Linked DNA regions of Homo sapiens. The protein of the gene in region 1 purifies or fractionates together with the protein of each later gene. This does not show direct contact. Each region holds a gene or a part of one and is shown in the gene's direction. Other genes may lie near its edges.

The links.
Region 2: the proteins of ZNF354C (region 1) and IPO8 purify together in Homo sapiens (co-immunoprecipitation; 2 studies listed by BioGRID and IntAct, with this or other methods). This does not show direct contact.
Region 3: the proteins of ZNF354C (region 1) and USP34 purify together in Homo sapiens (affinity purification with mass spectrometry; one large-scale study listed by BioGRID and IntAct). This does not show direct contact.
Region 4: the proteins of ZNF354C (region 1) and IPO7 purify together in Homo sapiens (co-immunoprecipitation; one large-scale study listed by IntAct). This does not show direct contact.

Annotation. Positions count from the first base shown.
Region 1 is NC_000005.10:179,080,873-179,084,378, forward strand, and holds the end of ZNF354C (zinc finger protein 354C), read left to right. Parts: 3' UTR 1-3,105; downstream 3,106-3,506. UniProt on the Homo sapiens protein: Transcriptional repressor that inhibits endothelial angiogenic sprouting. Suppresses osteogenic effects of RUNX2 and may be involved in osteoblastic differentiation.
Region 2 is NC_000012.12:30,678,864-30,682,369, reverse strand, and holds part of IPO8 (importin-8), read left to right. Parts: intron 1-552; coding exon 553-711; intron 712-1,731; coding exon 1,732-1,888; intron 1,889-3,506. UniProt on the Homo sapiens protein: Involved in nuclear protein import, either by acting as autonomous nuclear transport receptor or as an adapter-like protein in association with the importin-beta subunit KPNB1.
Region 3 is NC_000002.12:61,209,082-61,212,587, reverse strand, and holds part of USP34 (ubiquitin carboxyl-terminal hydrolase 34), read left to right. Parts: intron 1-658; coding exon 659-816; intron 817-3,506. UniProt on the Homo sapiens protein: Ubiquitin hydrolase that can remove conjugated ubiquitin from AXIN1 and AXIN2, thereby acting as a regulator of Wnt signaling pathway.
Region 4 is NC_000011.10:9,422,652-9,426,157, forward strand, and holds part of IPO7 (importin-7), read left to right. Parts: intron 1-354; coding exon 355-489; intron 490-1,125; coding exon 1,126-1,225; intron 1,226-2,262; coding exon 2,263-2,339; intron 2,340-2,494; coding exon 2,495-2,611; intron 2,612-3,506. UniProt on the Homo sapiens protein: Functions in nuclear protein import, either by acting as autonomous nuclear transport receptor or as an adapter-like protein in association with the importin-beta subunit KPNB1.

The DNA of each region.
Region 1 (3,506 bases):
TACTTTGTTATCTGTTGCAGAAGGGATGTATTTGGCAGAATCTCAGGCTGCATGTCTGGTAGCTCATTAGAGCCAGGAGAGATTTTAGTTTAATTATAGCCTTTCATTGTACTAACGAAGGATTTGAACTTAGTGAACAGAGTCAAGACTAGAATCTAGGTCTTTGGTTCTGGTGTTTTGTGATCATTATAGGCTCGTTTCCAACCTGAGGTCCCAAGAGTACTATTTGTTTTGTAGCCTGGTTAGACATAGTTGCAGTAATTTAAAGTTACTGTGTTATCTTTAAGGGCTTCCTCTCACCTTAATCTTAATAATTGACTCACAACTATATTCTTTTTTCTTATGAGTCCCTAATTATGCCTGCTTTTGTTATAATTGTACTTAAATCCTTAAAGCTAGCTGAGGTCCAGATAGTGTAATTGCTTTTGGAGGCTTCACATATAAGGTTGCCTTCTTATTACACATATTTTAGGAATTAATTATTTTATGGAAAGTTATATATGAAGAGTTTATTATTAAGCATTCCTTTCATCAGTTTAAATGTTTAATTCCTCCCAGGCGTTTTTCCTCCAATTTTATATTTGATTTTTCATTCAATTCACAGTTGGTATCATTAAAAAAAATTCTAATACAATTAGCTAGACCTTCTGAGAAAAATGTTAGAATTAAACTCAAGCAGTCAGTATAGTATATTTCTTAACCGACTGGTTTTAGCTTATCAGAAAGTAATTATTTTATGTATTTAAATACATTTACAAAGAAAATGAGGCTTTTAAACAGACCTCACTATTTAACATTGTACCCAGTAGTGGTGAGCATGCTTAGTACCCAAATTTTGGTTTCTAAATGCCATTCCCCACTAAAAGGAACCAGGGTTCCTTGGAGAAATGGCTGATTCCATGTTTGGAGCAGGGGAAGTGGGTGGTGTGGCTAAAATACTTTTTATTAAGAAAATAAAATAAAAAGCAAGATAGTATTTGAAGACTAATGGGGTAATGTCAGAAGGGAACAGGCGCCAAGTTGAAGGTATTCTCACTGGCCAAATTTAGGACAACTTAGAATAATCACTCTTACTGGTGATAATACTAAGAAGGAAAAGAAGTTCATAATGATGAAAGTAGAGAAAAAAGAAAACTCTATACAATTATTTGAAGAATGTCTTCTTTTAAATGTACATGGAATGATAGATTTGGAAAAATTACCATTTTACAACCCTTAATGTAATTAAATCTGGCAAAAATCGATGGTAAAACCCATTAAGTGGAAAAAATTTTAAGGAACTTTGTTTACAAGGTGTCAGAACATCACAGATATCTATTGCAAAAGAATTGCCTTTACAGTGAGATTTGGCTATCAAACTGCATTTCACTACTTCTGGAATAAGCCAGCATTATGTGGCTCTTGATGGGATGCGGTATGAAGCATGTGTGATCATCCTTGATGTACTGCCGAAAATGTTTACCTCAAATTTAATTAAATCTTTTGTCTAGACTTATCTTCCTGTTTAAAGAAATACAGGAATAGAGGAACAAGTTGAATTACACAGTATGGAAATAAATAGACAAGTCCAGAGTTGGTATAGGACAACTGGACTTTTTTTTATATATTTATTTTAAAATGGTTTTCTTAAATTTATTTTTTTAAACATAACACGAGGAAGCTGTTAAAACTGGTGTAATAGCTCAAAAGAACTAAGTATTCCAGATTTCGGGAGGGATGAAGAGGGAGATATTCAGAAACCTTCACCAGATTCCTCCCAACTTGATCATAGTGGATTAATGACGTGCTTTGTGGATGTGGTTAGTCAATGACACCAGCTTGACGGATCTTTCTTTCTGCACCAAACCCCATTGAGTTATCTGGTCCCCTTGGCTGACGAAGAGCCATTAGGCGAGGATCACTGGCATCATCCAGGGTGATGTTCTTCAAGCGACTGACCAACCGATCAGGTCGAGGAGCTGCAACAGCCTTGGGGCCCTCACAGACTCGCCAAACATTCCAGGCACTGCACTTGCCAGTGCGCTGATGAAGAATCACGGAGAACTCCACCTCATCTCCTGCCTGGAGCTCAAGGCCATCCTCAACTTCTTTCATATGGAAAAAGAGCTTCTTGCTATCCCCTACTTCATAGTTAATGAAGCCAAACTGATCTTGCACACATTCCACTGGCCCTACGCAGGGGTGTGATGTTGTAAGCCATAGTTTGTGCATTTTGGCCCTGGTCTGGACTTTTCAAAAAGCAAATGTAGTAAAACAAAAAGTGGTCTCTGCTAGATTAAGACAAGAGACATAACCAAATGGAAAGTGTGATCCTTTATTAGCTTCTGATTCATAAAAAAACCTATAAGAGACATTTGGGGGGATATTTGGGGAAATAGGAAGATGGAATGGGTAGTAGATAATGTGGTATATTTGATTTTTCTAGAAGTGATAATTGAGTTACGTAGGATAATGTTCTAATTCTTAGGAGATGCATGCAGAAGTTTTTTTTTTAAGTTTTGAAAAGTCATGATGTTGACAGCATATTTTCAAATAAATATGTACAAAATCAGTCAATTGTTTTTTGTGGTGGATCTATATGTGGTGGATGTTCATTGGTCATTTAAAACATTTTTCTATGTGTGTCAATTTTTAATAAAAATGCAAAAAGTGATTGGATAAAGAAGTGATGAATATTAATCTTTCAATCAGAATTCTCCATTTATATTCTTAGGAAGTTCCTGTTTGAGAGTTTATCCTCCAGGGATGTAATCATTGGCAATAAAGTAACTAGGTGGTACCAGTTCTCCTTTAAATGGAATGAGCATGTTCCACTTTATCTCTCATGCTAAATGTAACTAAGGCATGGAGCAGCTGTCTGGGGACCCTCAAAAGTAATGATTGATAACAACAGGCAGATTTGGGAAGGAAACTAGAATTTGAAACAAGATCATTGTGGCGCTCCTGGGCATTCCTGTGGTGAGGACAGAGATGGCTGAGCAGGCATCTAAACCTCAGAGTTAGGAACCCTTCACTCTGGGCAGAGGATTTGTGAGCCAAAAAGGGTTAGGAGACTCCCCATTGCTTTTCTTCCCTATCTATCTTCCTGCTACTTGGACCTGGAGGTGATGTATCCATGAGGTGTGTAGCAGAGAGGAGAACCTAAACCCTTGGATTTCTAACCTGAAGATCAGGAAGAGGAAGTGGCTCCTGAGAGGTGGAAGGTGTCAAGGTGGTGACAAAGATAAGGAAGGTCAAGAAAGTGATTTCATAACAGTTGTTTATGCAATCTGGGGCTCTCCCCTGGTCTATACATATATAGGTCTGACCCGATAATTGTTTGGGTCTGACACTGGGCAAAGATCCAAATAGCACTGAGAATACTTAGAAAACTGGACTGACATTAGAACCACAGCCCACAGGAGATGGATTGGAACTGGTCACCAAGACTTAGCCAGTTAAATTGCCTGCTGGAAAAAATACCCTAACATTTTCTGGAAGAATTAAATACCCAGAGGCTCGTAATA
Region 2 (3,506 bases), on another chromosome or scaffold:
GGGTACAAAAATTAGTATCTCAGACTGCTTTGGATAGATTCAACATACGATGTTGGGTTTTAATTGATAATGGATGAGTTCAAGGTTTTGGCCCATAGAGAAGCTTCCCACCATTATGTAGGCCTTCTTTGTACTTACTTGTACCATCTTTAGACTAGGTTTATCTGTTTGAAGTGTTATTTTTTCCCCCATTCAGGATATGGTAACCAAAATATGAGATATAATAAGCTGGAAATTTTACAGAGTGGAGGTAGATTCATTGGAGTTTTTTGAAAATTTTAAACTATTTAAAACAATTTTTTTAAACTGTATTTAGGATAAGATAGTTTGAAAGGTTTCATTCATTTTAGAAACTCACCCATTCTGTTTATTTTCAACAAGTTGAGCCACTGAGGATGTTTTTTAGATATGTCTTTTTCCCCTACCCCACATATGTAAGTATATAATACACGTAAATAGAAGATAACAAACTTTTATGTAAAATATTAGAGGTCTTTGAAACACAGTATTTATAATTACTTAGATTTTGGACTTTTCTTCCCTACTTTGTAGAGTCCAATTAACAATGTGTCTCCGTGCCATCATAAAACATGATTTTCCTGGTCACTGGCCAGGAGTGGTCGACAAGATAGACTATTACTTGCAATCACAGAGCAGTGCAAGCTGGCTTGGCAGTTTATTATGCCTGTATCAACTGGTGAAGACATATGAGTAAGTTGGTTTCCATTGGCTGAAGAAAGCAGCCTTGTGTAACTTAGAAATAATGAAGTTGCAAAGAGTGGTCTGTTGTGGATGTTCTGCACAGGTTATCAGATTAGTTTGGGAAATGTTGGGTTAAACATGCTTAAATGTGTTTATTTGCTGCAGTTATTGAAAGAAACTTTAATGTGCTGATGGATATTGCTAACCTCTGAGACAGTGATATAATATGAAGCACTTCTCAAACTTGTTAGTTGCACAGTACCATTTATTAACAGCTTTCCTTGGAAACTCTGATATAGAGATACCTTTATATTTGTCTTCTAGGGAGTATATTAAGTAAACCAAAACATTTACTTTTTTGGATGCAAGATAGAAAATGTTAACGTTTCTTTGCTAATGACATTCTTTTCCATAAAAGTAGCTTGGGTAGGTAGAGGACTAATATCACACTTAATAGTATTGCTTTCTGGTTTCTAGGAAGATTGCTACATGTGTATATGAAGTCCTGTAGTTCTCCTTTTAAACTGACTAGTTCCTACTCTGCTTATGAAATTTATAGAACATATTTTAGATTTATGGCAATTAAAGCAATCTAAGAGCACCTAAATTTTAAACTATTTTAACTACTCAATTCAGGGAGAAATATAATAAGAAAATTCCCCCCATATTATTTGTTATATAGTCTATTTAAAATAGCATAGCAACTTATATTTTATAGTAAGAATTTTGGCTGGATGAAAATTAATTTAAATACTAGAAACATTCATGTAGGAAAACTGCAAAATGGTCTCGGGTTGTTTTAAACTAGTCTAAATCTTTCCAGAAAGATTTTAGGTGTTGTGCCTAAAACAGGATGTGTTATTTTAAATTTCTTTTCAACTTAATTCTAGCAATTCAAACAAACTAGAAGCCAATGTTAATGACTTTGTTTTGTTAGTTTTATGTATTTAAAAAATATTTTATAATTTATTGTTGATGGTTCTTTGGGTGGGAAAAATTACTTTTCTGTTTTTGTCTTTGCTCATGTAGATATAAGAAAGCAGAAGAGAGAGAACCTCTTATAATAGCAATGCAGATATTCCTGCCTCGTATTCAGCAACAAATTGTTCAGCTCCTTCCTGATTCCTCCTATTATTCTGTATTACTGCAGAAACAAATTCTGAAAATCTTTTATGCACTTGTTCAGGTAGGTTTCTATTGCAGAAAACAAACATGGAGTCCTGTATTTCTGCCTGACACATGGAAAGTGCTCAATAAGTGTCACTTATTATTAAAAATTATTTTGTATTATCCCATATATTTCTTTAAAAAATGCTTATGAGGAACAGGTTCACAGAAATTAATTACCCAAGATCGTCTCAATGGCATATCTGCCCCTAAGTGCTTTTCACTCCAGTGTCTGAAATCATGGGTAAAGCAGAACCAGGGTAGGTAAACCTACCTGCTCTAAAACCTGATTACTCGCAACTATCTGTTCTGTAGCATTCCTGCCTATAGATTAGTTATGATTACAAGAGAAGAAGAAGGAAAAGAAGAAGGAAAAGAAGAAGGAAAAGAAGAAGGGAGTCCCTCTTCTATTGGGAAATCATATTGATGGTAGTTTCTTTGCATTTGACTCAAAGCTAACAGAGGATTTAGGGTTCATTTTCCTTGGTTTAAAATACTGCCTAAAAAAAAAAAATCTGAATGCTATAAGGGATACCAACATGGGAATCCGGAAAGAAATGAGAAGATAGAGATGGAATATGTTTGAAATATAAAAATATTTAACATCAAATCCTTGAAAGATTTGGGTAAATTATTTAGGTCTGATTGGAGGAAGAATAATTGTTTTCAGTCTTAACTGTTTGATGAATGAATTAAACTCTATTACATGCTTTCTAGTTGAATTTGTCGTGAGAAGAGGATGGTTTTGTTGAGCTCAAAAACCATGATAGTTTGGATCCATCCTTGGCTTTTTATTGACTTAGATACTTAAACTATTTCAAAATATTTTACTTTAATAAAGATTTATATTTTTATTAAAGCTTCCCCTTTTAAACTTTTAATAGGGATAGTCTGAGGCAGATATTTTTTTTTTTCCCCCAGAGCAGCCTTTTTGCAGGGAAAGAGAAGAGGGAAGGAGGCAAATGTGAGAAGAGAAGAAACTAGAATACTAGGAAAATATGTTCTCTCACTTGTTTTGAAATAATATTCAGAGGCCAGACTTCCTTTTTCTATTGGCAGAAACAGCTAGAAATTGGGAAGTAAGACAAAGGCTAATGAAATAATTTTTCTAAAGCCTCTACCTCTAATTGGTTTGCTAAGACGACAGAATCTTCATATTTTTCTCAGTCTATACTTGCTAAAAACCTGGAAAACCTCAACATTTTTAACCATTTTGGTAATCTGTTATGTACTAATACATTAATATTCTCCTCTGGGAAGTAGAAATTTAGAAGGCATTAGGAGCCACTATTACAATGCTGACATAAGTAAAAAGCGATAATATGAGAAGGAGCAGACAATTTTGTTTTTAAAAGTATGAGCAGCCGGGTGCAGTGGGTCAGGTCTGTAATCCCAGCACGTTGGGAGGCCAAGGTGGGTGGGTCACCTGAGGTCTGGAGTTCAAGACCAGCCTGGCCAACATGGTGAAACCCCATCTCTAGAAAAATACAAAAATTAGCCAGAAATGATGGCGGGTGCCTCTAATTCCAGCTATTCCAGAGGCTGAGGTGAGAGAATTGCTCAAACCCAGGAGGCGGAGGTTGCAGTGATCTGAGATTGCACCATTGCACTGCAGCCTGGGTGACAGAGCGAGACTC
Region 3 (3,506 bases), on another chromosome or scaffold:
CACAGCTAGTGATTTTACTAAAATATTTGTTTTTACTTTTTATTCATCAGGAAATTGAACTGAGCATCATTCTAGAAAAGCATTTTAAATGTTGGAACAAAGGTTTACCTCATATACACTATTAATTTAAGGGTTATTTAGGCATTTAAAATCTTTGTGACAAAGTAATGATTTCTCATTAATTAAAGAAAAAGTGGATAGGAGATGGTGTGGCATGCCTCTGGGTTTACATTTGAAGTTACAAAAGTAGTGCTTTAAGCAGTAATAAGACTAAAAATGAATTGTATTCACTTACAGTTTTTACTCTTTCTAAACTTGTATTTTAAGATTTGTTGAGTTCTTTTAGTGTTTATTATTATTGTTATTATTTGTATTTTAGTAGAGACAGAGTTTCATCATGTTGCCCTGGCTGGTCTCGAACTCCTGAGTTCAGGCAATCTGCCCGCCTCTGCCTCCCAAAGTGCTAGGCATCAGCCACTGCGCCCAGCCAAAATTTTTTAAATAGAATTTGTTACTGATTTTATAACTTTCTGAATGGAAGTATAATCTAGCTTATTTGTATAATTTTAAGAGTTGATTAATGAACGTAGAAATGAGAAACTGACCTTCTAAAATGCTATAGGGTTAAAAGATCATATGGCTTATTTGGCTTTTTTAGGCAGTAGAAGAACTGTTTAACCTGATGCAGCTGTTTATAGCTCAGAGGCCAGATATGAGAGAAGAAGAATTAGAAGATATTAAACAGTTCAAGAAAACAACCATAAGTTGTTACTTACGTTGCTTAGATGGCCGCTCCTGCTGGACTACTTTAATAAGGTAAAAAGATGTTTTTAGTTTTGTCTTGTTTATTTCCAGTGAGATGAGGACCATCCTTTTGATGTTTAAAGATAAATCATTTACATTGGGGAAGCATTTGTGCATGTAGCCACTTTGGAACATTTTGAAGGTTCATGAACTACTTTTAAACAGTTTTTGGTCTGGCTTTGGTTTGTATTTGTGTATGTTTTATCATTTTAGGGTTGAAGGGAACCTTTATGTATAGCCTTCTACCCAAAGCTTGAATAGTCTTGTTTATGGCAATTTATCCTAACTCAGGCTTGATAGTTCAGTTCTAGAGGCCTCCAGGAAGTTTTCTGCACCTTTGGATGAGTCTGTTAATATTTTGCATTCTGTTTAGCCCAAATATATCTATCTGGCTTTCTGATCTATATGACTTGGCCAAAATTATAAAACATAGTCTTTATAATTAATTTTCAGAGCTACAGAAGTTATTGAATGGTTACAGGAACTACTACAAATTACCCTTAATTCCCCTTAACCTAGAGAAATAAAGTTCAGGCTAATTTCTTAAATTCTTCTATGTATTACATCTAAGACTTGGAAGTGTTGTTTTTTATTAGGCACATTTTTTTTAATGGTACTTTACTGAAGACTTCACTGTAATATCTTAAGCTACTCAATCTAAGATGAGGTTATTTCAGATTGTCTTCTTTGGAAAGCTTTCAAATGTGAGTCTTCATTAGTAAACAGGGAAATTAACTACGCCTTTGCCGGATTTCTTAAAGGGATTGTTTTTAAATTTTGGATTAATTTTGAATACAATTGTTTTCCCAAAGTTTACTACTTAAAGCTTTATTTCAAAAAAGATTTAGAGCAGCCTGGGCAACATAGTAAAACCCCATCTCTATATAAATAAATAAGTTAGCAAATAAATTAGGGTGTGACGGCATGCACCTGTAGTCCCAGCTCCTCGGGGGGCTGAGGTGGGAAGATCCTTGAGCCCAAAAGGTGGAAGCTGCAGTGAGCCATGATTGTGCCATTGTACTCCAGCCTGGGTGACAGAGCGAGTCTCAAAAAAAGAAAAAAAAGATTTGGAGCTTTCTTAACTCTTCTTGAAAAAGGAAAGGAATAAAGTAGAAGGATTTCCAGTTGTAGTCTATAACAACATTTTTCTGGTATCTAATGAAAGAAGACCTGTTAACAGTAATATAGCTGTGTGAGTAATTATAGTCATGTGTTGCATAACAACAGGGTTACATTCTGAGAAATAAATTTTTAGCCTATTTCATCATTGTGCAAACATCAGAGTGACTACTCACACACAACTAGATAGTAGCGCCTGCTACACCCCTAGGATATATGGTATAGCCAACTGTTCCTAGGCTCTAAATCTGTATAGCATGTTACTACACTGAATACTGTAGGCAATTATAACAGAAAGGTAAGTATTTGTGTATCTAAACGTATTTAAACATAGAAAAGGTACAGTAAAAATATGGAATAAAAGACAGAAAATGGTACACTTGTGTAGGGCACTTACCATGAATGGTGCTTGCAAGACTGGAAATTGCCCTAGGTAAGCCAGTGAATGAGTGGTGAGGGAATGTGAAGGCCTGGGACATTATTGTACCCTACTATAGACTTTATAAACACTGTACACTTAAGCTACACTAAATTTATTTTAAAATACTTTTTCTTCATTATTAATGTACTGAACTTTTTTTACTTTATAAGTTTTTTTAACTTCTTGATTCTTCTATCGTAGCACTTAAAACACACTATCATAACACTTAAAACACACATTTTATAGCTGAACAAAAGTATTTATATCTTTATAAGCTTTTCATATTTAAATTTTTTTTCTTTTTAAATGTTTTCGTTAAAAACTAAGACATAAACACACACAATTAGGCTAGGCCTAGCAGGGTTGGGATCATCAGTATCTCTGTCTCCCACCTCCACATCTTGTCCCACTTGGGAGGTCTTCAGAGGCAGTAACTAGCTTAGAGCTGTCATCTCCTCTGACAATGATGCCTTCTTCTGGAATCCCTCCTGTAGGGCCTGTCTAAGGCTGTTTTACATTTAACTTTTTTTGAAATAAGTAGTAAAATAATGATAATATAGTAAATACATAAACCAGTAACATAGTCATTTATTAACATTATCAAGTATTAGGTACTGTACATAATTGTGGTATACTTACAAGACTGGCAGTACAACAAGTTTGTTTATACCAGCGTCATCAGAGACATGTGGGTAATGCATTGTGAATGTTACCATGGCTATGAAGTCACTAGGCTAATAGGAATTTATCAGCTCCATTATAATCTTATGGGACCACCATTGTGTTTGTGATCCATCATTTACCACAATTTCATTTTGTGGCACATGACTGTATTTTATAAACTATTTTCAAGGCTGACACGTTTTTAGTATTTTTTTCCTTCATGTTACTCTTTTTTAATTACCAGCTGATGAGTGTTTAGATAATATGGTGAATTTTATGATTATCCAGAATTTAACAATCAGAAGATGAGCCTATTATAAAAATCAACATTGTTTATGTGGAAACTTTAAAAATATTCCCATATCTTCTGCCATTGTAGATAATTAGCAGTTGATTAGATATTAATAGACTTTTTTTTAGTTAGAGTTTATTTAATATTATTTCCTTATGCTGCATTTCCAGGAAACAGATGAAGCAGTCTCTTTTCTGTAGGTAGGAA
Region 4 (3,506 bases), on another chromosome or scaffold:
ATAGGTAGCAAATGGGTTAGGTGTGGTGACTTACACCTGTAATCCCAGCACTTTGGGAGGCTGAGATGGGAGAATCGCTTGAGGCCAGGAGTTAGAGACCAGCCGGGGCAACGTAGTGAGACACTGTCTCTAACAACAACAACAAAAAAAACCCCAGAAAAACGAAGATAGTATATAGTTTTCTCTTCTTTTCATTCTTAATCAGAAATGAGTTAAATTATTTTTCAAAGTATACGGTTGTTTTTCTTGATGATGAGCTTGTCATTAAAATATGTGTTAACTGTTTTTACTGGCTTGTAAGTGGTTGAAATTTCTATTTGAACATTGATTTGTGATCGAAAATTTTTTTCCAAGGTTTTATTGAAGGTGTTATATCAGTACAAGGAGAAGCAATATATGGCTCCTCGAGTTTTACAACAGACATTAAATTATATTAATCAAGGAGTTTCTCATGCTCTCACCTGGAAGAATCTGAAGCCCCATATACAAGTAATAATTTTTATCTGAAATGTTTTTATAGTAAATATAATAGAAATGACATCAATTGCCATAAAGGTTGAAAAATTGCATGTTTGTTGAGTTGTGTTACTTAGACTACTTCTGGTGATTGTTTTGAGAGTATAGCAGAAAAAGGAGATAAGACAGTGACATAAAGTTATGAGAGGTATCTTGTGAATATTCAACTTATCTTTTAATCCAAAACTGTTGTCTTCAAACTTGCAATTTAAGTTCTTAATATTGGACTATGATTATATTTTATCATGTAATTTGGAGTAGCCAAGGGACTTTATCTCACCAGATTCATTTCTAGTATAAATGACTTACCTGCTATTTCTATGAATAATTTATGTGCTTTATTTAGAGCTGTAGAATTTTATAGACTATATATATTTAGAATACTTAATTGCGACCTTTGTACACATATATCTTAAAGTTACTTGTTACAGAAAGGGGAAGTACATGTAGTTTGATAGTTGATCTTAGAACACATTAAATGCATTACTAACGTTTGATATTAAGCTTTAAAATACATATAGTGTTACTTTGGTTTTAATACTTAAAGGAAATTTGAAGGTTTAAATTTGAAAACTGATGGTTATTGTTTTCTTAACTTTTAAATTGCAGGGCATTATCCAAGATGTTATTTTTCCATTGATGTGCTATACAGATGCTGATGAGGAACTTTGGCAAGAAGACCCTTACGAATATATACGCATGAAGTTTGGTAAGGAATTTTCACGTTTTTAGAAACAAAAAATGTCAGTAATTAAGATTACAGTGATTGCATGTAGCCAACCTAGGGGGTATTATGTATCTTCTTTGTTGTTTTAATGTAATTGATCCCTTGTGTAGTCCTTTTTGGGGCTATTTATTAATTATGACATTTGATAATGATAATCTTATTTTTGGCAGACACAAATTCAATACTGTTAAGTTTTTATTACTGAATACCAAAACTGTTAGATATTCAAGATTACACCTCAACACTAAATGTCTTAACTATACTTTTGGATCTTATGTTAGCCATCATATGAGTGGGAAATGAGAAAACACATCTAGGAAGCTGGTGTCACATGAAGTCCTTGCACAGAACTAAAGAATTGTAATTTGGCTAATAATGTTGAATATTGGTCCTTATTCTTACCAAGTCATTTGTGCTTTTTGCAGCTTGTACTTTTGTGACCCTGTTGTGAAAATTCTCACATCAGTAGTGTTTCATACATACGATTTAAACTGCTGAGTTCTGAGTTAATAAATAAAAATGAAAGCTATTAGGAGGAATTCATGGATTAACATTTAATTTTCACAGGCCAGGTGCGGTGGCTAAGGCCTGTAAATCCCAACGTGTTGGGAGGCCGAGGCAGGCAGATCGTTTGAGGTCAGGAGTTTGAGACCAGCCTGACCAATATAGTGAAACCCCATCTCTACTAAAAATACAAAAATTAGCCGGGCGTGGTGGCAGGCACCTGTAAACCAGCTACTTGGGAGGCTGAGGCAGGAGAATTGCTTGAACCTGGGAGATGGAGGTTACAATGAGCCGAGATCGCCCACTGCACTCCAGCCTGAGTGACAGAGCGAGACTCCATCTCAAAACAAACAAAAGCATTCAATTTGTACAGAAAAGACATTGAATTCTGCTTTTGCAAAATTATAAAGGGATCTGGGATCATTTTCATACCTTATGTAAAGATTAAGCATGTTTTTTAATGCTTTGTTGAAGAAATTAATGTTTATTGTCTTAATTTTAAACTTGTTCTCTAGATGTGTTTGAAGATTTCATTTCTCCTACCACTGCTGCCCAGACACTTTTGTTTACAGCCTGTAGTAAGAGGAAAGAGGTAGGCTTATTTAATGTTTAGATAACTTTTCTGTATTATTTAAAATTTATTCAACTATACACTTTTTAAATGTTAGTCATGTGAGTCATTTTGTTAGTATGTTTTTTAAGGACTGTTGGCCTATTCAGTAACAATACTTTTCTCTTTTAATCTAGGTACTGCAAAAGACTATGGGATTTTGTTACCAGATTCTTACAGAACCAAATGCTGACCCTCGAAAAAAAGATGGAGCCCTGCATATGATTGGCTCTTTAGCTGAAATACTTCTGAAGGTATTCTTTAGTGTGTTTGTATGTGCATGACTATGCAAGTAGTTTTAAAAAATAAATAGCCAGCCAGGCACAGTGGCTCACTTCTATAATCCCAGCACTTTCGGGATGCTGAGGCAGGCAGATTGCCTGAGCCCAGGAGTTTGAGAACAGCCTGGGCAACATAGTGATACCCCCATCTCTATAAGGATAAAAAATAGGCCGGGTGTGGTGGCTTATGCCTGTAATCCCAGCTATTTGGGAGGCCAGGGCGGGGGGATCACCTGAGGTCAGCAGTTGAAGACCAGCCTGGCCAACATGGTGAAACCCCGTCTCTACTAAAAATACAAAAATCCGCCGGGCGTGATGGCTCACGCCTGTAATCCCAGCATTTTGGGAGACCGAGGTGGGTGGATCATGAGGTCAGGAGATCGAGACCATCCTGGCTAACACAGTGAAACCCCGTCTCTACTAAAAATAAAAATAAAAAATTAGCCGGGCATGGTGGCTGGCGCCTGTAGTCCCAGCTACTCAGGAGGCTGAGGCAGGAGAATGGCTTGAACCCGGGACGTGGAGTTTGCAGTGAGCCGAGATCACGCCACTGCAATCCAGCCTGGGCGACAGAGTGAGACTCTGTCTCCAAAAAAAAAAAAAAAAATCAGCTGGGCATGGTGGTGGGCACCTGTAATCCCAGCTACTTAGGAGGCTGAGGCAGGAGAATCACTTGAACTTGGGAGGCGGAGGCTGCAGTGAGCCGAGGTCATGCCACTGCACTCCATGCTCCAGTCCAGGCGACAGAGACTCCGTCTCAAAAAAAAATAAAAAAATAAAAAATAACAACCTTATGGAGTGTACAACTCAGTGGTTTTTAGTTTATTCACAGTTGTATAACTATCACCCCCAGAAGGAACTCTGTATA